7 linked regions of the Homo sapiens genome follow. The protein of the gene in region 1 purifies or fractionates together with the protein of each later gene. This does not show direct contact. Each region holds a gene or a part of one and is shown in the gene's direction. Other genes may lie near its edges. The genes, in order: RPP21, RPP14, USP34, POP1, NACC2, RPP38 and OBI1.

Region 1 (3,516 bases):
GGTGGGCCGGACATCTACATTTTATTTATGAGACAGAGTCTCGTTCTGTCGCCCAGGCTGGAGTACAGTGGTGATCTCAGCTCACTGCAACCTCCGCCTCCCAGGTTCAAGCAATTCTCCTGCCTCAGCCTCCAGAGTAGCTGGGATTACTATGGACTATAGCCATGCACCACCACACCCGGCTAATTTTAGTGGAGACAGGGTTTTGCCATGTTGGACAGGCTGGTCTCGAACTCCTGAACTCAAGTAATCTACCTGCCTCAGCCACTCAAAGTGCTAGGATTACAGGTGTGAGCCACCGTGCCCAGCCTACATCTACATTTTAAACACACCACTCTCATTTGAGTCCGAAAACCCTTGTGAAACTAGTTCCAGAGGAGGTTTCAGCCATGTCCTTCCTCCCAGCTGGAGCCCTGCTTGTCTGTCCCCGCCTGGCACTGGGTCTGAAATTGGAGAGAAGTCATCCTCTCCTGACTTATGCTGCCCTCCCCATCTCAGGGTTCATTGATCTTCTACCCCTCCAATTCATGTCCCTCTGCTTCTGACTTCAGTAACTGATAGTCACTATGAGTCACAGGACACCAGACAGAAGAACTGGAAGATAGAAGAGGTCAGAGGGAGGGGTGTGAGGTGAATGTCAGTGTGGGGAGTGGGGTGAAGTTTCAGGGGCAGGGGATGCTGTTGACAGATTTCTGTGCTGTACCTAAGCCTAGGAGTTAGAAACCATTCACTCAGAAAGTGAGGATCACCTACTGTGTGTCCAGCACTGCATAACAGGAAGTGTGTTTCTTTGGTAGGTGGAATAGTAGGAGTAAACTGTGCTTTCTGAGGACCGGGAGTCCTTTTCCCTCCCTCCAGCACCCTCATGATCCTTCCCACTTTCACCCCCACTGGCACCAGTGCTTTTTTTTAATGTATTACCTCTGTGCCTTCCGTCTGTAGATCTTACAGGCATCTGCCTCGGACCTCAGGAGAGTAGGGCAGAAGCTCTAGCTGGGTATAAATTGCACATAACCATCTCCCCAACGTAGCTACATAAAGAGACCAGCCTTCTGTCCTGAAAATGGCCGATTTAAGATCCTCACCTGCTCCACTAGGTCTCTAGGTGATATAATTGGTCATGAGCTTGAGGAAGACAAAAGCACTGAAAATTCATAAAGGGACCCTGGGCATGGATTGCTGGGGTTGTGTTTAGAAACCGATGAGTTTGTGAGGCCTCCGGGAGGCTCCCGAGGGCGCGGGGACTACGTTTCCCAGGAGGCCTCGCGCGGACGCCCGGGCGGGGCTGTGCGAGGGGTGGGGCTGCGGGAGGCCCTGGAGCGCGGCGGTGATGGCGGGGCCGGTGAAGGACCGCGAGGCCTTCCAGAGGCTCAACTTCCTGTACCAGGTGAGTCTGCGACAAGGGCCCCACGGGGACGGTGCTCGGCGTCCCAGAGTGACTGCTCCCCTCCCGCAGGCCGCCCATTGTGTCCTTGCCCAGGACCCCGAGAACCAGGCGCTGGCGAGGTTTTACTGCTACACTGAGAGGACCATTGCGAAGCGGCTCGTCTTGCGGCGGTGAGACAGCCACGGGGCGGGCGGCGGGCGGGACGCGGGAGGAACGCGAGAGGGAGCGCGGGCGCCAGACCACTATCCTCCTCCGCCCCCAGGGATCCCTCGGTGAAGAGGACTCTCTGTCGAGGCTGCTCTTCCCTCCTCGTCCCGGGCCTCACCTGCACCCAGCGCCAGAGACGTGAGTGCTCCAACGGAGGTGGAAGACTGCGGAGCATTGGGGGCGCGGAGGGGGGCGGGGTGGGGGGCGGGCACTGGAGGCCAACAGCGCCTTTCTCACTGTAGATGGATGTTGGGTGTGGGATTCGCAGGAGTCTTCCTTCTTCGGGTTTGGATTAAGTTCCTAACGCCACTTGCACAAACTAGGGTTTGGGCTCGGCTGTTTTTTTTTTTTTTCTTCCAGTGTGGGCAATAAATAATAACTTTTAAGAGGCAACCCCACCCATGCACAATAATAGATGTTGTTCGGCTTTGTGGAGGACGATTCCCATCACCATTCATTTATTAAGCAAATACTTATTTTCTAAAATGTGTCAGGTACTGTGCTAGATTCATTATTCTCATTGAAATTACGGTCTGATGGGACAGACTAAGAAACAAAATGGTGTAGAAAAAGATTAACTGGGGGAGTAGAATGCTCACTTACTCATGCCAGTGGTGGCGAAGTTTATGATAAGCAAAGGGAGTGAGAGATGGAAATTCTAGGCATGTGTGCAGACTCTGAGACAAGAGAGCTTGTGGTGCTGTCAAAGAAATGAGAGTTCAGGAGGCTGGAGTTTGAGGTAGGAGGGCAAAACATGAGACTGGAGGGGGAAACAGGCCAGTTCTTGAAGTCTTGTTAGGGAGTTTGAACTTTATCTTAAAGAGTTCCAGGAAATCGATGGAGCTTATGCCGAGGCCTGACACCATCAAATGTGCATTCAAATTGGGGGTGTGGTGGGGGAGCGGGGATACCTACTGAAAAACACTGGAGGCAAAACTGGCAGCAAGAGACCGTTACTTCTAAACGTGGACAGTCTTTTTCCCATGTTCACCCTAGGCTGCAGGGGACAGCGCTGGACCGTACAGACCTGCCTAACATGCCAGCGCAGCCAACGCTTCCTCAATGATCCCGGGCATTTACTCTGGGGAGACAGGCCTGAGGCCCAGCTCGGGAGCCAAGCAGGTGAGAGGTGAGGGAGAAAATGGAGGACACCCCAGAGGATAGGGACAATGGAGAACGTAGAGTGAAGAGGACACATGGACAGGTTCTGGGTTGGTGTGAGAAGTACCACAGTCAGAAAACTAATTCTGTTTCTCTGATTCTGCTCATTTACTCAGATTCCAAACCACTACAACCCTTGCCAAACACAGCCCACTCCATTTCAGACCGCCTTCCTGAGGAGAAAATGCAGACTCAGGGTTCCAGTAACCAGTGATGGATTCACCCCATCTCCCAAATAAAGTTTACTTGTTTTACATTCCATGATTCTGTTCTGTGGGTATTTCAACTCTTAATTCCATTTTCTTCTGTTTCTGTCTGTGTTTCTTGGTCACCTTTGTAATCCCACCATGCAGGGAGATCGTGATTTCCATAGACCACTTGGCCTCACTCAGCAGCTTGCATTTCCAAGGCCATGGCCCCAGTTCCCTATCAATGTCCTGAGCCACCTTAGGGCATTCCATGTTTGGGCAGCCATAATTGCTGACTGAAGAGCTGGAGAGAATGATGCCACTGCTGCTGTTTTTAAACAAGGGGAGAAATATGGGGCAGCGGAGAGTGTTTGTATCCTCTAGGCCCACTCATAGTCAGAAAAGACTCAGGTCTTTTCCCAGTCTCAAAGTTGTCTTTAATAAAATTCTGATAAAGGAAATGGCGCAAACCTGAACTAACAAAGTCAAAGATGCTAACAAAGGACACCGACAGACATTTTGCAATTATGTCCCATAGGTAAACTCTCAGAGTTTTCTTAAGAATAAACAACT
Region 2 (4,223 bases), on another chromosome or scaffold:
TCCTGCTTCAGCCTCCCGAGTAACTGGGATTACAGGTGTGCACCACCGTGCCCAGCTAATTTTTGTATTTTCAGTAGAGATGGGGGTCTCACCATGCTGGCCAGGCTGGTCTCGAATTCCTGGCCTCAAGTGATCTGCCCGCCTCAGCCTCCCAAAGTGCTGGAATTACAGGCATGAGCCACTGCGCCTGGCCTGTGCCTCAGTTTCTACCTCTAAAATGGTGATGATCATAGTAATAGCCATCTCAGGATTGTGTGAGGGTTCCATGAGATGACATATGTAAAATATTTTGCATAGTGCCTAGCACAAAGTAAGTCTTTACTTTGTGGGTCTTTCCAGGACGGCCTAGATAGAACACCTACTATGTGCTGGGAGTCACAAGGGACACTGAGAGTGGGTCCTATCTTTGGGGAGTGCTTGACATAGGAGATCTTGAGGAGAGGAGATGCTAGATATAATTTTGTAGGCTGGGCGCGGTGGCTCACGTCTGTAATCCCAACACTTTGGGAGGCGAGGTGGGTGGATTGCCTGAAGTCAGGAGTTTGAGACCTGCTTGGCTAACATAGTGAAACCCTGTCTCTACTAAAAATACAAAAATTAGGCCAGGCGCGGTGGCTCACGCCTGTAATCCCAACACTTTGGGAGGCCGAGGTGGACAGATCACGAGGTCAAGAGATTGAGACCATGCTGGCCAACATGGTGAAACCTCGTCTCGACTAAAAATACAAAAATTAGCTGGGCATGGTGGTGCATGCCTGTAGTCCCAGCTACTTGGGAGGCTGAGGCAGAAGAATCACTTGAAGGGAGGCGGAGGGTGCAGTGAGCCAAGATGGCGCCACTGCACTCCAGCCTGGGCGACAGAGCGAGACTCCATCTCAATAAATAAATTATAATATAATGAAAAAAATGTGTAGAATGACTCGGGCGCAGTTGCTCACGTCTGTAATCCCAGCACTTTGGGAGGCCAAGGTGGGCAGATCACTTGAGGCGAGGAGTTCGAGACCAGCCTGGCCAACATGGTGAAACCCCGTCTCTACTAAAAATACAAAAATTAGCCAGGCATGGTGGAGCATACCTGTAGTCCTAGCTACTCAGGAGGCTGAGGTGGGAGAATCGCTTGAGCCCTGGAGGCGGAGGTAGCAGTAAGCCAGATCGCGCCAGTGCACTCCAGCCTGGGCGACAGAGTGAAACTGTCTCAAAAAAACAACGAAAAAATTGTTGAATGAATGAATGAATGCATGAAGAAATGGATAACTATGAAGCACCGTCCAAGGCGGAAAAAACCCGCCCTAAACCGCACCCCAAGCAAATTGCACACACGGCTTTCCCGGAGTGGACACCAGAGGGCGCTGAGCTCGGCCGCTCTCAGCTCCGGATCAGGATTCGCGCCTGGGTCCTTAGGACGACGCCGCGTGGTGACGTCATATCCGCCTGGGCGTCACGCTTCGTGGGGCGGGACGAGGAGAAGCCAAACGTAAAGACACCAGGAGTTTCTCGGGCCCAGCTGTGGCTGCTGCCGGGGAGCCCCAAGCCTTGGCGGGTCCTTGCGGCGAATAGGAGTCTGGTCAGGCGTCAGGCTAGTCCGACGAAGAGTGGGTAGGTGGAAGCCTTCCAAAGAGCGGCGGTTGTCTGGGAGCCGTCTCAGTTGGCCGCGACCCGGGCGCATGCGCGGGGCGGGCGGTGCGCCTTGGGTAGCTTGTCCTCTCCGACCCCGGGCGCTGAGGGCCTCTGTACGGCGCCGCGTAGGGTCTCGGCCGCAGAACGTGGCCGAGAGGCCCGGGCGAGACTTCGGGACCGTGTCCTGAGCGCTCTCCATGCGCCCGGCGCGAGGTGAGCGCTAAATAGTGGTTGTTGAAAAATATTGAAAGCCACCCAAGTGCTCAGCAGTAAGGATATTGAGCTTTTTAAAGTGATTGATTTAGTCCAAAAATTGTACGTCGCACGCCCACTGTGCACGACCCAGTGTTTTAGGGCCTTGGGAAACAGCAGTGAACAAGATAGCAAGATTCTTGGAGTGGACTTTTGTTGGGGTGGGGAGGGGAAGTACAGATAAAGATAAACGAGTTACATAATTGTCATAGAAAAAGGCAAATGCTACGAAGAAGAAAGCAGGGACGGGGCATGGGGGTGGGGTGCGGTGTTAGCCGAGAAGGGCACTGGGCCAACCCGATTGAGATTTGAGCTAAGCCAGGAAGGGGGCAAGGGTGTGAGTCCGGTGGCTGCCTGGAGGAAGATCTTTCCCAGCATGGGGAAAAGCTAGAGCCGAGGCCCAGCGGTGGGAGCGAGACTGGCGCGTGAGAAAGAGCTAGGCTAGGCCTGTGTGGTGGCGGGGATTGAGCGGAGGGAGAATGGCAGGACATGAAGTCAGAGGTGTAGAGGGAGCAGTCCTGCAGGTGAGGCAGAGCCTTGCAGGCTGCTCTAAGGACTTTGGCCTTACTCTGGATAAAACGGGAACCATAGCAAGATTTTGAGCAGAGGAATGATGTAGCTTGAGTAGATGTTAATAGACTCACTGGCCGCCGTAGGGATGGAGAAGCGGGGGAGTAGGGAGAATCAGATTTATTACTAATAGGTCAGATTAGGAGCATCCCTGCGCAGCCACTAAAAAAGGCTGACTCTAGGCCGGGCGCGGTGGCTCATGCCTGTAATCCCAGCACTTTGAGGGGGCCGAGGTCGGCGGATCACTTGACGCCAGGAGTTCGAGACCAGCCTGGGCCAACATGGCGAAACCCCATTTGTACTAAAAATACAAAAGTTAGCTGGGCGTGATGACGTACGCCTGTAATCCCAGCTACTCAGGAGACTGAGGAGCGAGAATTGCTTCGACCCAAAGCACTCCAGCCTGGGCGACAGAGTGAGACTCCATCTCAAAACAAACAACAAGACTGACTTTAAAGATGACGATGACAGTAACTTCGTGAGCCCACATCTGTGGAGAGCCTGGTGAATATATTTAATACCAGTCTGTACAAAATAATTTCCCAGGTATCCTCTCCTTTAATGTCAGAACAGCCTGCAGAGGGCAGTGCTGTCATTTGTAAGTCTTTTTTTTTTTTTTTAATTGCAAAAAATACGTGACATAAAATTTATCGTAAGTAGCATTGAGTACATTCACAACGCTGTGCAGCCATCACCACTGTCCATCTCGTGAATGTTGTGTAAGTCTTCGTTTTACTGGCATCTAAGCCCTGGGTCTAATTTCACTCCCCTATTTTAGGCAGCCAGCTCCATCAAGGCAGTAACACTAAAAAACATTTATGTGCCAAGCAATGAAAGAAACAGATGAGGTTTCTTGTTCTCCCTGCCCTTCTAGTTAGGGGAGACTCTAGTGACTGGGAAAGAAGCATCAGGTAACTATTTCCGCTGTCCTGAAACCAAGGATTCTTTTGAATATATAGGCCTATACCACTATCACTTTTCTCTCATTTGAATACCTACTTTGTGTCATAGTATTACAGTATTTTTTGTTTGTTTGTTTTGGAGACAGGGTCATGCTCTGTCACCCAGGCTGGAGTGCAGTGGTACAATCACAGTGCACTGTATCCTTAACCTCCCAGACTCAAGCTATCCTCCCACCTCAGCCCCTGGAGTAGCTGGGACTACAGGCACACACTACCATGCCTGGTTAATTTAAGTTTTTTTGTTTTTTTTTTTAGTGACAGGGTCTCACTATGTTTCCCAGGCTGGTCTCAAACTCCTGGCCTCCCAAACTGTTGAGATTACAGGCATGAGCACCACGCCAGGCCCCAAAGTATTAATGTTTGTTGAATGGATTGGTAGATGTAGCTCCTTGACCCTGACTTCTTTTCTCCAGAGGTCATCATCTGGGAGTGGTTGGAACTGGGTCTAACCCAGAGTGGTTTTGAAATGCTGGTCCATAGCTCTGTGACCTTGGATAAGTCCCTTTCCTTGATTGGGCCTCAGTTTCCTGTTCCCTGTAGTGGGGGATCCATATATTAAACAAATAGACAGTGTTAAGAGATTGCATAACATGGGGGCTTAACTTAGAGAAGGGTGTCAGAGAAGACCTTCATGAAGAGGTGGTATTTAAACTGAAAGTTGAAGGATGAATAGGACCTATCCAGAGGGAGAGCAAGGTTGGCATGGAGCCAAGGAAAGGAACTGTCTACAGAGAGATGAGCATGTTCTACGTTCTTGAAAGTTCAGACCTTTTAGAAGCTGCATTGAGTGCCCCTTCCAGGAATCCCTCTTCTCAACCCCTG
Region 3 (3,500 bases), on another chromosome or scaffold:
TCTTAAACATCTTGACTTTTAATTGAATCTTACATCTTCTTTAGAAATCATGAGCAAATGTTAACATATTTAGAGATTTTATTTTTGGCTACTTAGCATAAAGCTTTGGTAACTAGGTCAAGGAATCAAATGATAATGTCATTCTGTTAAGTCAATGTTAATATAAATTAGAAGTAAAAACAAAAAATGTATTTTATATAGGGTCACCTGCAGCTAGTCCTCAAAGCAGTGATAATAGCGATACACATCAAAGTGGAGGTAGTGACATTGAAATGGATGAGCAACTTATTAATAGAACCAAACATGTGCAACAACGACTTTCAGACACAGAGGTATGAAAATAGGTTTTTCTTCTTTTATAGGCATTTTTGGCTTTCTGGCGTGTTTATCATTTGAATTGGGTATATATACATAATTCATGTTTGGGCTTGTCCTCTCCTTTACGTAATATTTTTGACATCCTTTGAGTTTTTAATTCCATTTTGTATTGTTCAAAGGAGTATAACAAGACTGGCAGCCTTTTTAAAAAGTACAGTTTATTAATGTTGGTTACCTTTTTTCTTACTGGTTTAAATATTTATTTAAATCTATTTGTTTCAAAATACAGGAATCCATGCAGGGAAGTTCTGACGAAACTGCCAACAGTGGTGAAGATGGAAGCAGTGGTCCTGGTAGCAGTAGTGGGCATAGTGATGGATCTAGCAATGAGGTTAATTCTAGCCACGCAAGCCAGTCAGCTGGGAGCCCTGGCAGTGAGGTACAGTCAGAAGACATTGCAGATATTGAAGCCCTCAAAGAGGAAGATGAAGACGATGATCATGGTCATAATCCTCCCAAAAGCAGTTGTGGTACAGATCTTCGGAATAGAAAGTTAGAGAGTCAAGCAGGCATTTGCCTGGGGGACTCCCAAGGCATGTCAGAAAGAAATGGGACAAGCAGCGGAACAGGAAAGGACCTGGTTTTTAACACTGAATCATTGCCATCAGTAGATAATCGAATGCGAATGCTGGATGCTTGTTCACACTCTGAAGACCCAGAACATGATATTTCAGGGGAAATGAATGCTACTCATATAGCACAAGGGTCTCAGGAGTCTTGTATCACACGAACTGGGGACTTCCTTGGGGAGACTATTGGGAATGAATTATTTAATTGTCGACAATTTATTGGTCCACAGCATCACCACCACCACCACCACCATCACCACCACCACGATGGGTAAGCCTACTTCAAAATAAATATTCAGTTCATATTTCCTTTAGGGAAGTATTATATCCTATATTCAATTTGCAATTTATTCTGTATTAGTGCTATTCATTAGTAGTATAGTGCAAACTATAAATGTAAGCTACAAATAGATAATTTCAAGTTTTCTATTGGGCACATTTAAAAACACAAAATGAAGCAGGTTGTTGGCCATGCACAGTGGCTCACACCTATAATCCCAGCACTTTGGGAGGCCGAGGCAGGTGGATCACTTGAGGTCAGGAGTTTGAGACCAGCCTGAACAACATGGTGAAACCCCATCTCTACTAAAAATAGAAAAATTAGCCGGGCATGGTGGTGCACGCCTGTAATCCCAGCTACTTGGGAGGCTGAGGCAGGAGAATCACTTGAACCTGGGAGGTGGAGGTTGCAGTGAGCTGAGATCACACCACTGCACTCCATCCTGGGCAACAGAGTGAGACTCAAAAGCAAAACGTTGAACAACAACAATAAAAAACCAGGTTGTTAATTTTAATCATGTTAAACCAATAATATCCACAATGCCATTTACACATGTAATAAGTATAAAAATTACTAAGGTATTTCCTTCCTTTTTTTCTTACCAAGTCTTCAATATTTAGTGCATATTTTATACTTATAGCACTTTTCAATTTAGACCAGCCACCCTTTAATTCTTTAAAATATTTATTGATTTATTTGTTTTCTTCTTCTTTTTTTCTTTGAGACAGGGTCTCGCTCTGTTGCCCAGGCCGGAGTGCAGTGGCACGATCTAGGCTCACTGCAACCTCCACTTCCCAGGCTCAAACAATTCTTGTGCCTCAGCCTCCTGAGTAGCTGGAATTACAAGCACCCACCACCATGCCTGGCTACTTTTTTAGTATTTTTAGTAGAGATGGGGTTTCACCGTGTTGACCAGGCTGATCTTGAACTCCTGACCTCAGATGATCTGCCCGCCTCGGCCTCCCAAAGTGCTGGGATCACAGGTGTGAGCCACCAGGCCCGGCCTTTTTTTTTTTTTTTTTTTTTTTTGAGTTGGAATCTCACTCTGTCACCCAGGCTGGAGTGCAGTGGCACAATCTTGGCTCACTGCAACCTCCGTCTCCCAGGTTCAAGCGATTCTTCTGCTTCAGCCTACTGAGCAGCTGGGACTACAGGTGCCCCCCACCCCCCACCCATGCCTGGCTAATTTTTGTATTTTTAGTAGGATGGGGTTTCACCATATTGGCCAGGCTGGTCTTGAACTCCTGACCTTATGATTCGGCCTGCCAAAGTGCTAGGATTGCAGGCGTGAGCCACTGCACCTGGCCTTTTTTTTTTTTTTTTTTTTTTTTTTAAGAGATAGGGTCTCACTTTGTCACCTAGGCTGTAGTGCAGTGATGTGATCATAGCTCACCGTAGTCTCAAACTCTTGGGCTCAAGCAATCCTCCTGCCTCAGCTTTCTGAGCACTTGAGACTTAAGGTGTGTGTTGCCACTCCTAGCTAATTCTTAATTTTTTTTTTTTTTTTTTATAGAGACAGAGTATTGCTATGTTGCCCAGGCTGGTCTTGAACCCCAGACCTCAGTGCTTTTGCCGCAGCCTCCCAAAGCTCTGGGATTACAGGCGTAAGCTACTTATACCCAGCCTAGACCTACCATGTTTTATGTGTGTAATGGTCACATATGGCTAGTTGGTATTATATTGGATAACACAGGATTAGATTTTCAACATCTTGTAATAAATGCCTAAAAAAGATATGAGTGCTTATGGAAACTTTCCTAAATTGTGATTAAGAAAGGGAAATTTTACACATCTAATTTTAGGGTATTTAAAAGGGTAAGCTCCAGCATAAAACTTTTTGGTTATCTGTGAAATATACCAAATAATGTGATTCTGTCACTTAGTGGTGGTATTATGATGGGCAAAATAATTAATTTTTCTTCATTTTTTCAATCTATAAAATGGGAACAATAATCCTAGTGCTTTGGAGGCTAAGGCAGGAGGATCGTTTGAGGCCAGGAGCTTGAGATCAGCCTGAGCAACTTAGTGGGGCCCTGTCTCTACAAAAATATTAAAAACACTAGCCAGGCATGGTATCACACACCTGTAGTTCTAGATAATTGGGAGGCTGAGGTGGAAGGATCGCTTGAGTCCAGGAGATCAAGACTGCAGTGAGTGGTGATTGCACCACTACACTTCAGCCTGGGCAATAGAATGAGACTCTGTCTCTAAAAATAAAATGGGCACAATAGTATCTATCTCATGGTTTTATTGTGAGGATTTCCTGGGCTAAC
Region 4 (3,500 bases), on another chromosome or scaffold:
ACTCATTTAACACATATTTGTTGAGAACTTATTGTGTGCCAGGCTTTGATCTGAGCAATCCTCACAACCAAAACTTCACCTCTCATGGAGGCAGACAGTAAATGACAGTGTGGTTATCAGGAAATAGGACTGCAGTCTCAACACCCGGAATTATGGAATTTTGCTTTTGTTGATGTCAGGGCTGACGTTTGCAGCAGTTCACTGCTTGTCTGGAAAGCGCCAAGGGAGCCTTGTGCTTTATCGGGTGAATAAATATCCCAGAGAAATGCTTGGGCCTGTTACGTTTATCTGGAAGTCCCAGAGGACCCCGGGTGACCCTTCTGAGAGCAGGCAGCTGTGGATCTGGCTGCATCCAACCCTTAAACAGGTATAATCCTTCAGGTTATCTCCCGTCATTCTGAAACTGCATTTTTAATTACTGCTGGAAGTCAATACTGTAGAAATGTAAATAGTGTAAAGGTTTGTCTGATAGTCTGATATTTGTATATGGGGGGCTCTATGATTATTGAATGAAGTGAATTTTTAAAAAACTTTAAAAATTTGTATTTAAAAATGTCTAATTGACAAAAAGCAAATATATTCAAAGTATATAATATGATGATTTGATATACATGTTGTATACCACAATCAAATAACACATCCATCACCACCCATGCTGTACATTATATCCCCGGAACTTGTTTATCAAATATAATGAAGTCAGGGCGGGGCATGGTTTCTCATGCCTGTAATCCCACCACTTTGGGAGGCTGAAGCAGTTGGATCACTTGAATCCAAGAGTTTGAGACTAGGCTGGGCAACACGGTGAAACCCTGTCTCTGCAAAAAAGACAAAAATTAGCTAGGATTGGTGGCATGCACCTGTAGTCTCAGCTACTTGGGAGGCTGAGGCGGGAGGATCACTTTGAGCCCAGGAGGCAGAGTTGCAGTGAGATGAAATCGTGCTATTGCACTCCAGCCTGGGTGACAGTGAGACCCTGTCTCGAAAAAAAAAAAAACTAATCTTGACATCTCATATTTTTAGTAAGTCATAAGCAGAAGTAGAGATAAAAACCAGCCTTATGCTAATTATTTGAAATGTTGAATTTGAACTAATGTTTCTACCATGACTGAAGTGGTTCACTAGTATCTAGGGGCTATTTGATAATGAAAAGCTATTTTTGAGTAATTCTAATGATTTTTCACACTGAATTTAGCTTAGCTTCCCTTCTTTAGCATACTCACTACTTTAAAAAAATGTAGTCAGAGTGATCATGTTGTTTTCATAATATTTGACTAACCCTACCCCTAGCCCCAGCCCTAATTAACCCATTTGAAATTTTCAGTTTCAAAATTTTTTTTTGTTTAAAGTGGCATACACTACTCAGAACACCCAAAAAAGCTTTTTTTCAAAAATTAAAATTAAATTAAAAAAAATTTTTTTTTCCCAGAGGGTTTTGCTCTGTCATTGAGACTTGAGTGCAGTGGTGCAGTCATAGCCCACTGCAGCCTCTACTTCCCAGGCTCAAATGATCCTCCTACCTCAGCCTCCCCGAGTAGCTTAGACTACAGGGGTGCACCACCTTGTCCAGCTAATTATTTTTTTATTTTGTGTAGGAACAAGGTCTCCCTATGTTGCCCAGGCCATGGTCTCAAACTCCTGGGCTGAAGCCATCCTCCTGCCTCAGCTTCCCAAAGTGCTGAGATTACAGACGTGAGCCACCACACCTGGCCGAAAAAAGCTTTTTGATGATAAATTTAATTTAAGTTAATTTGTGAGGGAATACAAATGTGATTTTTTTTTATTTTTTATTTTTTATTTTTTTTTGAGACGGAGTCTTGCTCTGTTGCCCGGGCTGGAGTGCGATGGCACGATCTCAGCTCACTGCAACCTCTGCCTCCCAGGTTCAAGTGATTCTCCTGCCTTAGCCTCCTGAGTAGCTGAGATTATAGGTGCCTGCCACCCAACTATTTTTTGTATTTTTCAGTAGAGATGGAGTTTTGCCAGTTGGTCAGGCTGGGCTCGAACTCCTGATCTCAGGTAATCTACCCACCTCGGCCTCCCAAAGTGCTGGGATTACAGGTATGAGCCACCGTGCCTGGCCAAAAATGTTAATTTTTAAAGAGATTTAAAAAAAAAAACCCAACTAAATTTGTCGTAATATATTTAAATTTCAAGATTTTAAAGTGAATGTTTAAATATATTTTTAGGATATCTTAGAGGAAATAAAAGCAGCGTGCCAGTGTGTGGAACCCATCAAATCAGCTGTCTGCATCGCTGACCCACTTCCAACACCATCCCAAGAAAAAAGCCAAACTGAATTGCCTGACGAGAAAATTGGCAAGAAAAGAAAAAGGAAAGATGATGGAGAAAATGCTAAACCAATTAAAAAAATTATCGGTGATGGAACTAGAGATCCATGTCTACCATACTCTTGGATCTCTCCAACCACAGGCATTATAATCAGGTATGAGTTGAATTTGCTTTGAACCTACTGAACATTTTCAGTGAAGACCTGCTCCATTTTTGTCAGTGGCACAGATGTTGTGTGATGAAAGTTTCCATTTTAAGATGTTCTTTCTTTTTCAGCGATTTGACGATGGAGATGAACAGATTCCGGCTGATTGGGCCACTTTCCCACTCCATCCTAACTGAAGCAATAAAAGCTGCTTCTGTCCACACTGTAAGAGTAAAAGTGACTGTAGTGTTTTATTCTAATCATGTTTTTCCTGTCAAATTTGTGAAACCTAATATATAATTTGGTAACATTTTGGGCCATGGCTTTTAGATGTTTATTTCCCTACTTATTATGCTTATTATCAAAGATTTTGTTATCTTTCACTTCTCCTAGAAGACCACAACTAAGTGGATATGATCAGTAAACTGACTGTTCTTACTTAAATACAGACTGCTCTTGCATCTGTGAGTCTTGTAGAGGGTCTTAACTTCTGCTTCATAGGTAGGGAGTCTCTAAAATCCCTGAAATTGTGTGCCAGATTTTGTGATGTGTGCGTGTGCCATGTAGGTTTTCTTTTCTTTTTTTTTTTCTGAGATTGAGTCTCATCCTGTTGCCCAGGCTGGAATGCAGTGGTGCGATCTTGGTTCACTGCACCCTCTGCCTCCTGGGTTCAAGCGATTCTCCTGCCTCAGCCCCCCGAGTAGCTGAGACTATAGGTGCACACCACCAGGCCCAGCTAGTAGAGACAGGGTTTCACCATGTTGGACAGGCTGGTCTGGAACTCTTGACCTCAGGTGATCCGCCCACCTTGGCCTCCCAAAATGCTGGGATTACAGGCATGAGTCACCGCACCTGGCTGGTTTTCTGGGGCTAGTTTTAGGGGTCTAGAATCTCTAAAAAGGTTAAGAGCAGTATGTCTAGGGCAGCACTTCCAGTAGAGCTTTCTGTGAGGATGATGTTCCTTTGTGCTGTCCAGTACGACAGCCATTAGCCACATGTGGCAGTTGAATACTTGAATTGTGGCTAGAGTGACTGAGGAACTGAATTTATACCTTTACTTAAC
Region 5 (4,000 bases), on another chromosome or scaffold:
GACGCAGAGCTGAATAGAACCTAAAGTTGGGGTCAAGGGCCAGTCTGTGGCCAAGATCAAGGGCCTAGCTTGAGGTTGGGGTGACAAGAACCTGGCCAAGCTTCTGATGATTTGTCCAGGGAATGACCTTGGCTGACTGTGCCAGAAGGGCTGTAGCCCCAGGTTTCTGATCCCCAGAGCCCCAAAGGCGTTCTCTGGGATGCTGGTGGCCATCTCCTTCTCAACCCTTCTCCCAGCGCCCTCGCTCGGGACCACTGAGGCGGTATCACTCCATTCTCCTGCAAGGACCCTTGAGCGTGCTGTGGGAGTGAGGCTGGCTTAGCCTCTGAGGACCACTGCAGCCTGTCCTGACCTCAGGCCCCAGGTTAGGGGGCAGCTGAGGAGGGGTCTCTGGGTCTTTCCGGGTGTGTGGCCGTTTTATTTCCGTGCCCTTGTTTTAAAACTGCACCTCTGTCCTCAGGAGCGTGGCCTTGGGCAGATGGAGAGCTGCGTGGCCGGTGCCGGAATGACTGTCAACGCCCCAGTGCGCCCGGATCACACCAGGCCTGAAGGCAGCGCCAGGCCCAGTCCAGGCAGCTTGCAGTTCCCGGGCCGCAGGGACGGGCGCCGGAGCCCCGCAGACGTTCGCCCAAGGGCGCTCCCGTATCCTCGTCTTTCACGGCCCGCCTGAGCGTCCAGGGCGGCTGCGGATGCGCGCACTTCCCCCGCCCGGATCCCGGAGGCTGCACCGTGCGGACGCGACTGCCGCGGGCAGGGCGCGCGCCGGGGGCGGGGTAGGGGGGCCCGGGGGCTCTCCCGGGCTTAGCGAGTCCGGCCGAGGCCGGGGCCCGGGGAGGGCGGAGGGCGGCGCTCCAGGTCCTTTCCCGACCCGGCCGCCGAGCTCCGTCCTCTGCGCCGCGGCGTCCGGCTCCCGCCGGGTGTCCCGCGCAGGGTCGACCGCCGGCAGCTCCGGAAGGAGGACGCGCGAGGGGCGAGGAGCTGCCGCCTCCCCTCCCCAGCGCTCGGGGTTCCCCACGCCCCGCCGGCCCCCACTGGGGACCCTCCCGGCCCCCGGACCCCAGCCCCGACCCCGGGAGCCCACCTGGCTGCCAGTGCGCGCGCGCGCGCGGCCGGCGCGCTGTCCCTTTAACGGCCCGCGGGCACCTCCCCCGCCGCCGCCCCGCCCCCGCCGCGGTGCGGCCGCCGGTGCTGGGCGAGGTCGGAGAAAGTCCATGGGAGCCGGAGCGCCGGGACGCCAAGCACTTCCTGCCGCGGGCGGCGCGCCGCAGCTGCCCAGGCCGGACCGGGCCGGGCGCCCGCAGGTACCGCCAACTTGGCGCGCGCGGCCGCCCCCGGGTTACGCCGCCGGGCGGGGTCGTCCCACGGGCCGGGCCCGCACTTCCCGCAAACTCCGCGGCCGCCCAACTTGGCGCGAGCCCCCTGCCGCAGTGCCGGCCGCGCGGGGCGGGTGCGGCCGAGTTCCGCGCCGGCCCGGGCGTGCGCGCGGGAACCGGCCTCGGGAGCCCGCGGAGGGGGGCCGGGCGGGGCCGGGGGGTCCCGGCGGAGGCGCCCGCGACCCCGGGCCGGGACGCCGCGCCGCGCGTTCGGGGAGACCCCGGCTCCGGGCGTCCCGGGGCGCTCCCCGCCGCCTGCTGGGTTTCCCTGGATTTCTGGGGACCCGCGCGGCCTCCCCAGGGACCCGACTGGCCGATCCAGCCCTCCGGGTGGGGAAGCCGGGGCAGGACTGGCCCGGGGCCAGGGCGGAGGTACCCACCCCTCCCGGCGCATCTGCGCAGCTGCCTGGCCCAGCCGGGCCCGCGCCTCGCCCTCCCGGTCCAGGTGGGCCCGTTCGTGGGTCGTCACCGCCTCCCGCGCCTCCCCCACTCGGGCCCCAGCCTGGGGAGAAACTGGGGTCCGGCCGCAGGGGGAGGGGGCTCTGCCTCTTGCCAGCTTCTGTGCCTCTGCGGAGCTGAGGTCGGGGGGCCCCAGCTCCTTCTCTAAGAAACTCAGCGGAGCCCGGGGCCCGCCGCGCACCCCGCACGGCCAGGGCGGACCGAGGCCTTCCGACGGAGTTTCCTGCTTCTCTTGCTGGGATCGTGTGGGGTCGGAGGTCAGAGGTCACCTCCCAGCCCCTCTGCCAGGCTCTGGGGGAAGTTTGGTCTTGGACTCTCGTCGTGGAGCCGCTTAAACCTGTGGGTCTGAAGGCCGCGAGGCCGGGTCCCTGGAGTTGGCCTCCCAGGCCGTTCCACTCCCTCCCCCAACCCCCGCGCGGGGCCTCCGGATTGGAGGTGTTTCACCCACGTGCTGGTGGGCCCGTCTCCCTGGGCCGCTGGGTGCCCTGAGCTGTGTTCTCTGCTGCGCGTTCCTTCCTGTGTGTGGCGGGGGTGCTGACCCGGGGGTGCCCAAGGCAGCCCGGACTCCCATCCCGTGGAGCTGCCTCCGGGAGCGCGTGCACCTTGGTGTTCCCGCCCGCCAGCGCGGCCGCACTCTCCTGCCAGAGTCCGTGTCCCTCCAGGTCGCCCCTTCTTCTCACCCACCCCTCTTTTCGTCTGGCAGGCTCCTGACCTCCTTCCCTCCTGTTCTCCAGTGGGACACTCAGCTCAGCATTCTGCAGGGTGTTTTAGCCTGTAGCACCCCCCAGCAGGGGCGCCTAGAGTTAGGTCAGGGTTCAGGCAGCCCCCGCCCCACCCGCCACCTCTCAGCCACCCACCCCTTCTTCTCCCGGCCACCGTTGGAGCACCCCTCTGGTCCTCTGTGGGGCCTTTCCCAGCCCCTCCCTTAAAGAGGCCTCTTGGCGTTTTCCCCTGGGGTCACTGTTGGGTGGTAGCTGGGCCAGAGTCCAAGGGGAGGAAATAAAAGGAGCTGCCACCCAAGGTGGTGGCCCCCTGTCCTTTCGGCAAAGCCACTTGGAATGGGCACAGAGAGTGGAACAAGATATCACTTGTCACTTCTTAGTGGCCAGGGATCCTTTCGCAGTGGTCACACCCAGGGCTCGATGGTGCTGGCCCTGGCCTGGCGGGAAGGCGGGGAGGAGCCACCCGGGAGATCTCCTGCTGGGAGCAGTGGGAGCTGGGCTGCTACAGGCTGCGAGAACAGGCTCTGTTCTTTACCACCGGCTGCTGGAAGGGTTCGCAGGGCTGCTCTGCCCTGGGCAGGGGGCTAGTGGTGACTTTTAAAAAATTCTTCAATCCTCCCTTTGTTTTCCAATTAAAGCATGAGGCTGCATTATTCATGAAACAACAGTGACGATCTTGGTGCTGAGCGGTTCTTCCAGGCCTGCACTCCTCTTGGCCTCTGCCTCCGGAGTCCTGCTTTCCTGGTTTGTGGGCAGTGTGGTCTCCCAGGCCCGAGGGATGGAATGGGGAACCAAGGTGTTGTCCTTTTCGGGATGTTGAGTTCCCAAGGTTCCACCTTGTGCCCCTTCCTCTGAGGTCTGTGCCTCTGACCTGTGTCCCTGGAACGCACAGGGCACCGAGTGCCCAGTGGCCCCAGCCACCGTCAGTGGGGCAGAGCCCATGTTCCTTCCTCAGCCAGCCCTGTTCTAGCCACCTCCACACACTGTCCCCAGGCTGCCTCTCTGCATCTCACAGCCCCTTGGGGTCACTCCATCCCCTTTGCAGGGTCACGCAGTGGGTTCCGAGATCCAGTTGGACTGTGGCCGGTGGGATGAGGGTCGGAGTCCACAGGGGGGCAGCAGGTGGCACCCCTTACCCCAGGATACACCAGCATGTTTCTCCGGAGAACCAAGGCCTTCTACAGACCCCAGTGTAACGAACACATTTGGGAACTTGACTATGGGGCCCCCTGACTCTGCTGCTCCTCCGGCCCAGTCCACCTTCACCTTGGTAGCACATGTCCCTGCCTCAGTGGCCCAGGCTGACCAGCCTCCCATTGTGGTTCTGAGGACAAGGTAGGCCACCTTCCACTTCAGGGTGACATTTCTGGCCTGGGCTGAGGAAACCTGGGGCTGGGCTTCCAGGCGTGGCTCGAAGGAGAAGCAAAGCCCTGTGGTGTGAGGCCG
Region 6 (4,114 bases), on another chromosome or scaffold:
CAGTAGCTCATGCCTGTAATCCCAGCACTTTGGAAGGCCGAGGTGGGCGGATCACCTGAGGTCAGGAGTTCGAGACCAGCCTGACTAACATGGTGAAACACCGTCTGTACTAAAAATACAAAAATTAGCTGGGCTGGTGGCCCGTGCCTGTAACCCCAGCTACTCCGGAGGCTGAGGCAGGAGAATCACCTGAACCTGTGAGGCGCTGGCTGGAGTGAGCCAGGTTCGCGCCATTGCACTCCAGCCTGGGCAACAAGGGCAAAACTCTGTCTCAACAACAATAATAATAATAAATAAAAGAAAGAAATCACAGAAACTATACCAGAAAATAGGATACAAAACCAACAGTGAGGAGATTGAGAAAAGGAGGCAGATACGTAAAGAGGAAAAGGAAGGGGGCCCAAGTAAGGCCGGAAAAAGCGGGGAGAAGGAGGAGGCTCATTAGGTCAGAAGCAACCTGCCGTCTTCTAAGTTCTGGCCAAGGGTAGATCAACAGATCCAGATTCCTGAGCTTTAAAATGTTATTCGGCCGCTTCATCACTTGTCCCCGACTTTGCAGCGACTCCGATGGTAGCCTGAGTCTCCATTGCTTGGAGCAGCCACAGTGGACACTGGACGGGATATTCTGTGCAGCTGTTGCTGAACTCAAGGCAACTCTTACTGCCTTTCTCTTTTCGGGCTCAAGATTCCCTGCATTATTGCCCATAGGCATGTGTTTTACCCCATACTCCTTCTCCCTTTTATCTTGATTTTCGCGGTGCTGGGGAGTCTGCAGGGATTCCATGGCGACGGGCTCACTGGGACAGGGGCTGGGGTTGTGCGTCCCTGAGGCAAGGCAAATACAGAAAAGCGAATAGAGACAGAGGGCTAAGATTCCAAAGCACTGAAAGGTAGAAACTGGGTTAGAAGAGAGAGGGGAGCACAAACGCCCGGAGAGAGCGAGCCCTCGGGATACCATTGGCTATAGGCTGGCCTCCGAACAACTGGACGGTCCAAGTCCTGAGCGTCTGGTTACCCGGGCAACCGCATGGTCTCGCGATACATACCTCGCGCCTGCGCACTGCCCCTGTAGCGGGGGTGGGGGGACCCGGTCCGGAGACTCCACCCCGGGGCCTAAACTCGAGTCTAAAAGATTGGGCCTCGTTGTGTCGTTTCCGGGTCGCGCGACGCTGTGGGCCGCTTTCCCCTCTCCGGAGTGACCTAACACAGGATAACGAAACCTGCACTGCTCCGAGCGCTTCCTCCCCGGCCCGTCGCGTCTGCGAGGCGAGGCCGGGAGGCGAGGGCTCTGCGCACGCGCGGCGCAGGCGCACTGGGCGCCGGTGCTGTTGCCTTCAGGTGACCACGGATTCGCCATCGTGAGTTCCAGGTGGGCGCGCGGGGCCCACGTAGGGCAGGAGGCCAGCCCCGGGGGGATCGGGCCCGGGACTCTGCGGAATCTGGAGGCCGAAGCCCGCGCGCACGCAGGGTCTCTGCTGCTTCCCCAACGCCTGTTGCGTGGCCGCAGGACCCGCCGCCCTCCCGGTTGGGCCGCCCAGTCCCGGGCCGGGCGCGTGCACCCAGAGCTTCCGCGTTTCTAGTCCGGCTCCTCTGCTGGATTGCAGCGCCGGCTGGGCACCAGGAGTACAAAGCGAAAACCCCCGCCGGCCCTTCTGTTCTCCACGGTCTCCAAGGAGACACGGACAACAGAACAACACTTCCGTGTGCTAAATAGTAAAGCACCAAGGTACTCGATCCAGGGGCGGCGTGCAGTGGGGAGGTGAGCTTTGGGTCGGCCGTCGCCCCTCGGCTACCGGCGGGATCCAGAAACCGGGAGTCACCACCAATACCGTTCTCAACTTTACTTCCAGCTGGTCACTACTGTGTCGGGAGATTCTACCTTCTTTTCCGACTAACATGTATTTTTCTCCAGTCCTTTCTGCGGCGTCTCTAGTGCAGGCCACCGTCATTTCTAACCTGGACGACTCCAGGAGCGTCTTTGCTGCTCGGGGACTCTTCCTTTGCCCAGATCCACAAAGATCTATAACGTCTTTCTAATCACGACACCTCTGCTTTAGATGTTAAAGTTGCTTCACACTGGAACGCTTGCAAAGGTCTTCATTATCTGGTCCTTACCCACCTTTCCTAGTTTCTCACCGCTTTCTCTAGCATCTCTGCCCCAGCCACATTGAACTTATTTGAACGTGTTTTTTTTTTTTTTTTTTTTTTTGAGACATAGCAGTCGCCCAGGCTGGAGTGCAGTGGCGCGATTCCGGCTCACTGCAACCTCCGCCTGCCGGGTTCAAGCGATTCTCCTGCCTCAGCCTCCCGAGTAGCTGGGACTACAGGCGCCTGCCACCACGCCCGGCTAATTTTCGTATTTTTAGTAGAGACGGGTCACCACGTTGGTCAGGCTAGTCTCGATCTACTGACCTCAAGTGATCCGCCCGCCTGGGCTTCCCAAAGTGCTGGGATTACAGGCGTGAGCCACCTCGCCAGCCAACTTATTTCTTTTAATACTGAGATACCTTTCTTTACTCCATACTTCCTTTGGTAGGCATTGTTTAGATGTAGGTTAAGAGGTCCGGCCCGGCGCGGTGGCTCACGCCTGTAGTCCCAGCACTTTGGGAGGCCGAGGCGGGCGGATCACAAAGTCAGGAGATCGAGACCATCCTGGCCAACATGGTGAAACCCCGTCTCTACTAAAAATACAAGAATTAGCCGGGCGTGATGGCCCGTGCCTGTAGTCCCAGCTACTCGGGAGTCTGAGGCAGGAGAATCGCTTGAACCCTGGAGGCGGAGGATGCAGTGAGCCGAGATTGTGCCACTGCACTTCAGCCTGGCGACAGAATGAGACTCCGTCTCAAAAAAAAAAAAAAAAAAAAAAGTTCCTCTGTGAGGACTGCCTTTTCCCACCCCCCTCAACTAAGCTAGGCCTCTGCTGGATGTTCCCTAAGCATACTGTTCCCTGACCTTCATGTGCATCAGGCTTTATTGTATAATTACTTGCTAATATTTTTTCCTCGTGGACTCTAAGCTCATGAGGTCTGTGAGAAAAAATACTTAATCTTTATGGCCTGGCACATCGTGGATAATCGATAAATATTTGTTGAAGAAAGGAAGGGGCCTGCGGCTGAGGGTGGGAGTGGTATTCCAGGCAGAGGGACTAATGTGTATAAAGACTTGCAGGTGGGAAAATGCTGGCCTCATTAAATAGTATGTTGTTCGGTGTTGAGGACTTGTGCTTGGTGGGGCCTAAGGAGAAAGAGGGCCTAAGTGGGAGATTGAGCTGGAGTGTGGAGGGCCTTTTATGTCACATTAGAGTTTAGGCGGGGCATGGTAGCTCATGCCCTCAATCCCAGTACTTTTGGGGAGGCCGAGGCTACGGGATTGCCTGAGCCTAGGAGTTGAAGACCAGCCCAGGCAACAAAGCAAGACCTTGTCTCTATAGAATTTCTTTTTTTTTTTTTTTTAAGACGGAGTCTTACTCCATTGCCCAGGCTGGAGCACAGTGGTGCAATTACGGCTCATTGCAGCCTCCGCCTTCTGGGTTCAAGCAATTCCCCTACCTCAGCCACCCACCTAAGTAGCTGGGATTACAGGTGTGCACCAGCACTCCTGGCTAATTTTTGTATTTTTAGTAGAGACTGGGTTTCACCATATTTGCCAGGCTGGTCTCGAACTCCTGACCTCAAGTGATCTGTCCAGCTTGTCCTCCCAAAGTGCTGGGATTACAGGTGTGAGCCACCGTGCCCAGCCTATACAGAAAATTTAAAAATTAAAAAAATTTTCTGGGCTTGGTGGTATGCGCCTATAATCCCAGCTATTCAGCATGAGGCTGAGGTGGGAGGATTGCTTGAACCCAGAAGTTCAAGGCTGCAGTGAGCCATGATCGAACGACTGCACTACTGCCAGGTGACAGGGCAAGACTGTCTAGTAAAAAGAGTTTGCCCTTGATCTACAGGCAGCAGAGGCCTCTTGAGACAGCTCTAAAGGGCCCTCAGCAAAGCCTATTTTTCTCTCTTTCTCTAAAGCTATAAAATCTTATCAGTCAGTACTTTGTTTCTGGATTATATTGCGTGAGATTATGCTTATCCAGACTACTTGGCTCTCTTTATCGCCCCAGCAGATTCTG
Region 7 (4,149 bases), on another chromosome or scaffold:
AACATGGGGAAACCACTCCCCGACCCTCGAGGCAGGCGGATCACTTGAGGTCAGGAGTTGGAGACCAGCCTGACCAACAGGGTGAAACTCCGTCTTTACTAAAAATACAAAAATTAGCCAAGCATGGTGGCGCATGACTGTAATCCCAGCTACTCGGGAGGCTGGCTGAGGCAGGCGGATGGGATCGCTTGAGCCTGGGAGGTCGCTGTGTTGGCACCTAGTGGTGACAGAGCTAGACCCTATCTCAAAAAACAAAACAAAAGTTGCCAGAAGCCATGGAGCTACCGTTTAGGTAGGAAGTTGTTGGGGGCAGGGATTTCCGCTGAAGCAGCCCAGGTCCAGAACCCCTTTCTCTTAACCATGAGGCTGCTTCTTGAAGTCATACTGCGTCTTTTTCACAAAGATTAGTAAAAGTTGTCCCGATGGTCTTGTCTTTAAATCTCTCAACTCACAGATTTTACTTGTTAGCGTAATTTATCACATCAGCTCTTCCTCGCTTCAAGTAAGTTGCAGATAAATTCCAAATTTGTTATACTGCATTTAAGATAAATTTAGGAACTTTTAGGTTTTTTTCTTTTTTGTTGGTAGGAAACGCAACTTATAACCTCACAAATTCTCCCTTGGGGTTCAACAACACAGCGGTACATTTCATATGCAACCATGCACCTGAAATGAAGACGTGAAAACGTTAATCTCCTTTTGGTGGAAAACCCAGAGAAGCCCACAGTAAAAATGTATTTTCAGGGAAAGCTGCGATTAAATGTATCAGGATCGTCTCGGACACAGATAAGGAGACAATCACTGTTTTCTTAAGTGAATTATTGTGCCCTCTGGAAGCACATTATATTGAGTGGAAAGAGAACTGACAGAGGTGGAAAGCTGTTTTGAAAAAAATTGAAACGTGTAGATAATGTCTTTTCTCTATGTTTTGATTACGCTGTGTTGGCGGATGTGTGGGGTTTAATAATTAGGCGAAAAACTCTCCATCCTTCACCCCATCCAATCCCCGAAAACAATTTGGGGATTTAAAAAATCGCCTTTCCGTATCTTCCTCTTCTGTCTCCACTATTCCGCTTTCCTTTAGATTTTCCAAGATCCTCGATACTTGTAGTAAACTACCTTCCTACACATTCGCAGGAATCTTGCAGCTCCCTAATCAGTGAATTTTCTTTCTTTCTTTCTTTCTTTCTTTTTTTTTTTTTTTTTTTTAATGAAAGGAAAACGCCTTGGAGATCGCGCGTTTCGAAAGCGCGTTTTCGTTTTCTCTCCTGGGCGGGTTATGGCCCTACCGGGGCGCCGTAGCCGGCCCGCGCGTGCCCAGTCTTGGCGAAGAGTAGCGGTAGGTCGGCGGGACTTCCGTGTTGGCGGGATTCTGAACGCTGCCATGGCTCAGACCGTGCAGAATGTTACATTGTCGCTCACTCTGCCCATCACGTGCCACATTTGCTTGGGGAAGGTAATGGGTGATTGTGGGCACAGCTACAAAACGGGGTTGGATAAGTCGCTCGCCGGGGCCGAGGGCCGTCTCGTGCGGGGGCGGGGAAGGGGCGTGAGGCGCGGAGATGGGAGAAAACGCTAACCCGCGTTCTTGATGGGAGGCCGCGTCCTGGGAGATGGGGGTAGCGCACCGTGATTAATGGATTCATCTGGGCGCCTTTCGGAGGAGGGTGACAGCGGCCCGTGGTCTGCCGGGAGGGCGGCGAGACGGCCCTGCCACCGCCCGCGGCCTCACACTGGCAAGACACCGGCCTCGAAGGAGGCCCCATCAGAAACGCATCGCAGGGATATTTAACTTCCCTCTGCAGCCTCGCGTGGCGTGTAGTGAAGCCCATTAAAACACATTTCCTGGGAGCCTCACCTCGGGCTTCTTAGTCCTCTGTAACTAGTGTTCATCCTCTGGGGCCTACGGTGCTGTGTATTGAGTCTTTTCCATTTCCAAGACCTTTTGCCTTTATCCTGGCCTTGAGGATGACCTTTGCTCTGAATTCCTAATTTGAAAAGTAAATAGTAAGTGCTCCTGGAGGGTATTAGAATAAGAGGTGTGGCTTTTAACTCCAAGAATGGGTCAGTCAGGAGATAGAATACTCTCTCTTTGTGATGCAAGAGGTGCCTAGTGTGTTTGTGAAACAAGGTAGGGAAAGTGGTTCTGAATTAGAAACGGAGCTTTGAATATTCTAATGCATTCCTCTCCTCTTTCATTTCCATTTGTGCCTCACTTTCGGTGTTTTAAAGAGCATTTCTTTACCGAATAGATAAAGAAGGGGAAAGATAAACCACCAACTTTTTTCCACCCTGAATTATTTTTACGTCTGTGGTGTGTCAGGGTGTGTGTTTACCCCCCAGCGCAGACTGAGCCGTAGACTCAGATTTGAGAAATACAAACTTCTAGAGCAAGCATTTGAGTGCCGGCCAATACGATCTGCCTGGGGTGTTTGAAGTTCTGTGTGAATTTACTGGATTCAAAAAGTAGAAGAAAGTCAGCATTGGAAGCAACTGATAATTCTGGATAGCAGTCAGAATGAAATGCCAATGAAATAGCAAATGTGCTGGGAGATCATGGATTGGGGATGGCTTGATCAATTTGGAGAGATCAAGGATGGCCTCATCGAGGATGGTGTTTGAGCTGGCATTGAGCTATTACTTACTGCCTGCACGGCTAGGGGGAGGGAAGAAGCGATGTTTCTATTTGCCACAGTCTACATTTGGCTCCTGACATAAAGTTCCTGGAAATATGTGTTAAATTCTGAGTTAATTTCCTCCAACACTGGCTTTAAAGGCTGATAAAAATATTCTTGGGAAGTATTTTGTACACATTATATATAGTTTCCATTAGTTATAGGCTGTCTTTTGCAATTGTATTGACAGTGTTCTGTTTGATTTACCAAACCTATACTTTTTGTATTTAACGAGAGTGATACCTCATAGAATATAGTGATTTGCAGACTACAGAGTGCTTTTGTATGCATATATTATTTTGTTTACTCTTCACACCAATGCTTTAAGATAGGGCTGGTTTTTCCATTTTTAAAATAAGAATATTAAAGCTTAGAGTCTGTGGTTGAACCTCTATACTATCATTTGTGTCTTCAGAATACTAAGACTTTGAGTCTTCATAGTTGAACCTCTATCATTATTACCATTTGTCTTCAGATTACTTCGTAAAACCCTCACCTAAGTTCATCCATGACATCAGGCATTTTTAGTGTTTTTTTTTTCCTGTATTGGTTAACTTTATTCTGAAATAAAAATCAGATAATAAAAATAAAAAGATTAAGACTTTTGTCTTAATCTTATGTGCCAGACTTTATGCTAAACTTTGCACATGCTTCATTTAATCTTCTGAAAACAGAAAGGATGGGGAGTTGATGTTATTACCATATTTCTACTGTTACAGATAAGGAAACAGGCTCAAAAAGGTTAAGCCAGGCGCGGTGGCTCACGCCTGTAATCCCAGCACTTTGGGAGGCCGAGGCGGGCAGATCGCCTGAGGTCAGGAGTTTGAGACCAGCATGGCCAATATGGTGAAACCCCATCGCTACTAAAAATACAAAATTTGCTGGGTGTGGTGGCAGGCGCCTGTAATCCCAGTTGAGGCAGGAGAATTGCTTGAACCTGGGAGGCGGAGGTTGTAGTGAGCTGAGATCGCGCCATTGCACTCCAGCCTGGGCAACAAGAGTGAGACTTTGTCTCAAAAAAAAAAAAAAAAAAAAAATTAAAAATAAAAGAAAATTAATTAATTAAGGATTTTTAAACAGGCTCCTCCCCCCCCCCCCCCAGGTACCATGGAAGCAGAAAGGATATGTGACTGAGGGCCTGAGTTCTACATTCAGGCTAGCCGGGTTCTAATCTAATCTACCACTTACCACTCATACAACCTTTTACAAGTTACTTAACTTTTTTTCTTTTTTTTTTCTTTTTTTCTGAGACGGAGTTTCGCTCTTGTTGCCCGGGCTGGAGAGCAATGGCGCGATCTCGGCTCACCGCAACCTCCGCCTCCCGGGTTCAAGCAATTCTCCTGCCTCAGCCTCCTGAGTAGCTGGGATTACAGGCATGCGCCACCACGCCCGGCAAATTTTGTATTTTTGGTAGAGACGGGGTTTCTCCATGTTGGTCAGGCTGGTCTTGAACTCCCGAACTAGGTGATCTGCC

The links.
Region 2: the proteins of RPP21 (region 1) and RPP14 purify together in Homo sapiens (co-immunoprecipitation; 3 studies listed by BioGRID and IntAct, with this or other methods). This does not show direct contact.
Region 3: the proteins of RPP21 (region 1) and USP34 purify together in Homo sapiens (affinity purification with mass spectrometry; one large-scale study listed by BioGRID and IntAct). This does not show direct contact.
Region 4: the proteins of RPP21 (region 1) and POP1 purify together in Homo sapiens (co-immunoprecipitation; 3 studies listed by BioGRID and IntAct, with this or other methods). This does not show direct contact.
Region 5: the proteins of RPP21 (region 1) and NACC2 purify together in Homo sapiens (affinity purification with mass spectrometry; one large-scale study listed by BioGRID and IntAct). This does not show direct contact.
Region 6: the proteins of RPP21 (region 1) and RPP38 purify together in Homo sapiens (co-immunoprecipitation; 3 studies listed by BioGRID and IntAct, with this or other methods). This does not show direct contact.
Region 7: the proteins of RPP21 (region 1) and OBI1 purify together in Homo sapiens (affinity purification with mass spectrometry; one large-scale study listed by BioGRID and IntAct). This does not show direct contact.

What each region holds. Positions count from the first base shown.
Region 1 is NC_000006.12:30,343,842-30,347,357, forward strand, and holds RPP21 (ribonuclease P protein subunit p21), read left to right. Parts: upstream 1-1,314; 5' UTR 1,315-1,330; coding exon 1,331-1,387; intron 1,388-1,456; coding exon 1,457-1,557; intron 1,558-1,625; coding exon of another isoform or gene 1,626-1,649; coding exon 1,650-1,732; intron 1,733-2,590; coding exon 2,591-2,716; coding exon of another isoform or gene 2,717-2,723; intron 2,724-2,871; coding exon 2,872-2,969; 3' UTR 2,970-3,016; downstream 3,017-3,516. Other genes in the region: TRIM39-RPP21 protein, read left to right, coding at 1,457-1,557, 1,650-1,732, 2,591-2,716, 2,872-2,969. UniProt on the Homo sapiens protein: Component of ribonuclease P, a ribonucleoprotein complex that generates mature tRNA molecules by cleaving their 5'-ends.
Region 2 is NC_000003.12:58,304,822-58,309,044, forward strand, and holds the start of RPP14 (ribonuclease P protein subunit p14), read left to right. Parts: upstream 1-1,423; 5' UTR 1,424-1,596; intron 1,597-1,698; exon of another isoform or gene 1,699-1,830; intron 1,831-4,223. UniProt on the Homo sapiens protein: Component of ribonuclease P, a ribonucleoprotein complex that generates mature tRNA molecules by cleaving their 5'-ends.
Region 3 is NC_000002.12:61,345,588-61,349,087, reverse strand, and holds part of USP34 (ubiquitin carboxyl-terminal hydrolase 34), read left to right. Parts: intron 1-201; coding exon 202-332; intron 333-607; coding exon 608-1,218; intron 1,219-3,500. UniProt on the Homo sapiens protein: Ubiquitin hydrolase that can remove conjugated ubiquitin from AXIN1 and AXIN2, thereby acting as a regulator of Wnt signaling pathway.
Region 4 is NC_000008.11:98,134,293-98,137,792, forward strand, and holds part of POP1 (ribonucleases P/MRP protein subunit POP1), read left to right. Parts: intron 1-179; coding exon 180-367; intron 368-2,189; coding exon 2,190-2,446; intron 2,447-2,568; coding exon 2,569-2,662; intron 2,663-3,500. UniProt on the Homo sapiens protein: Component of ribonuclease P, a ribonucleoprotein complex that generates mature tRNA molecules by cleaving their 5'-ends. Also a component of the MRP ribonuclease complex, which cleaves pre-rRNA sequences.
Region 5 is NC_000009.12:136,092,490-136,096,489, reverse strand, and holds the start of NACC2 (nucleus accumbens-associated protein 2), read left to right. Parts: upstream 1-1,200; 5' UTR 1,201-1,301; intron 1,302-4,000.
Region 6 is NC_000010.11:15,096,041-15,100,154, forward strand, and holds the start of RPP38 (ribonuclease P protein subunit p38), read left to right. Parts: upstream 1-1,314; 5' UTR 1,315-1,726; exon of another isoform or gene 1,727-2,093; intron 2,094-4,114. UniProt on the Homo sapiens protein: Component of ribonuclease P, a ribonucleoprotein complex that generates mature tRNA molecules by cleaving their 5'-ends. Also a component of the MRP ribonuclease complex, which cleaves pre-rRNA sequences.
Region 7 is NC_000013.11:78,656,356-78,660,504, reverse strand, and holds the start of OBI1 (ORC ubiquitin ligase 1), read left to right. Parts: upstream 1-1,349; 5' UTR 1,350-1,384; coding exon 1,385-1,456; intron 1,457-4,149. UniProt on the Homo sapiens protein: E3 ubiquitin ligase essential for DNA replication origin activation during S phase.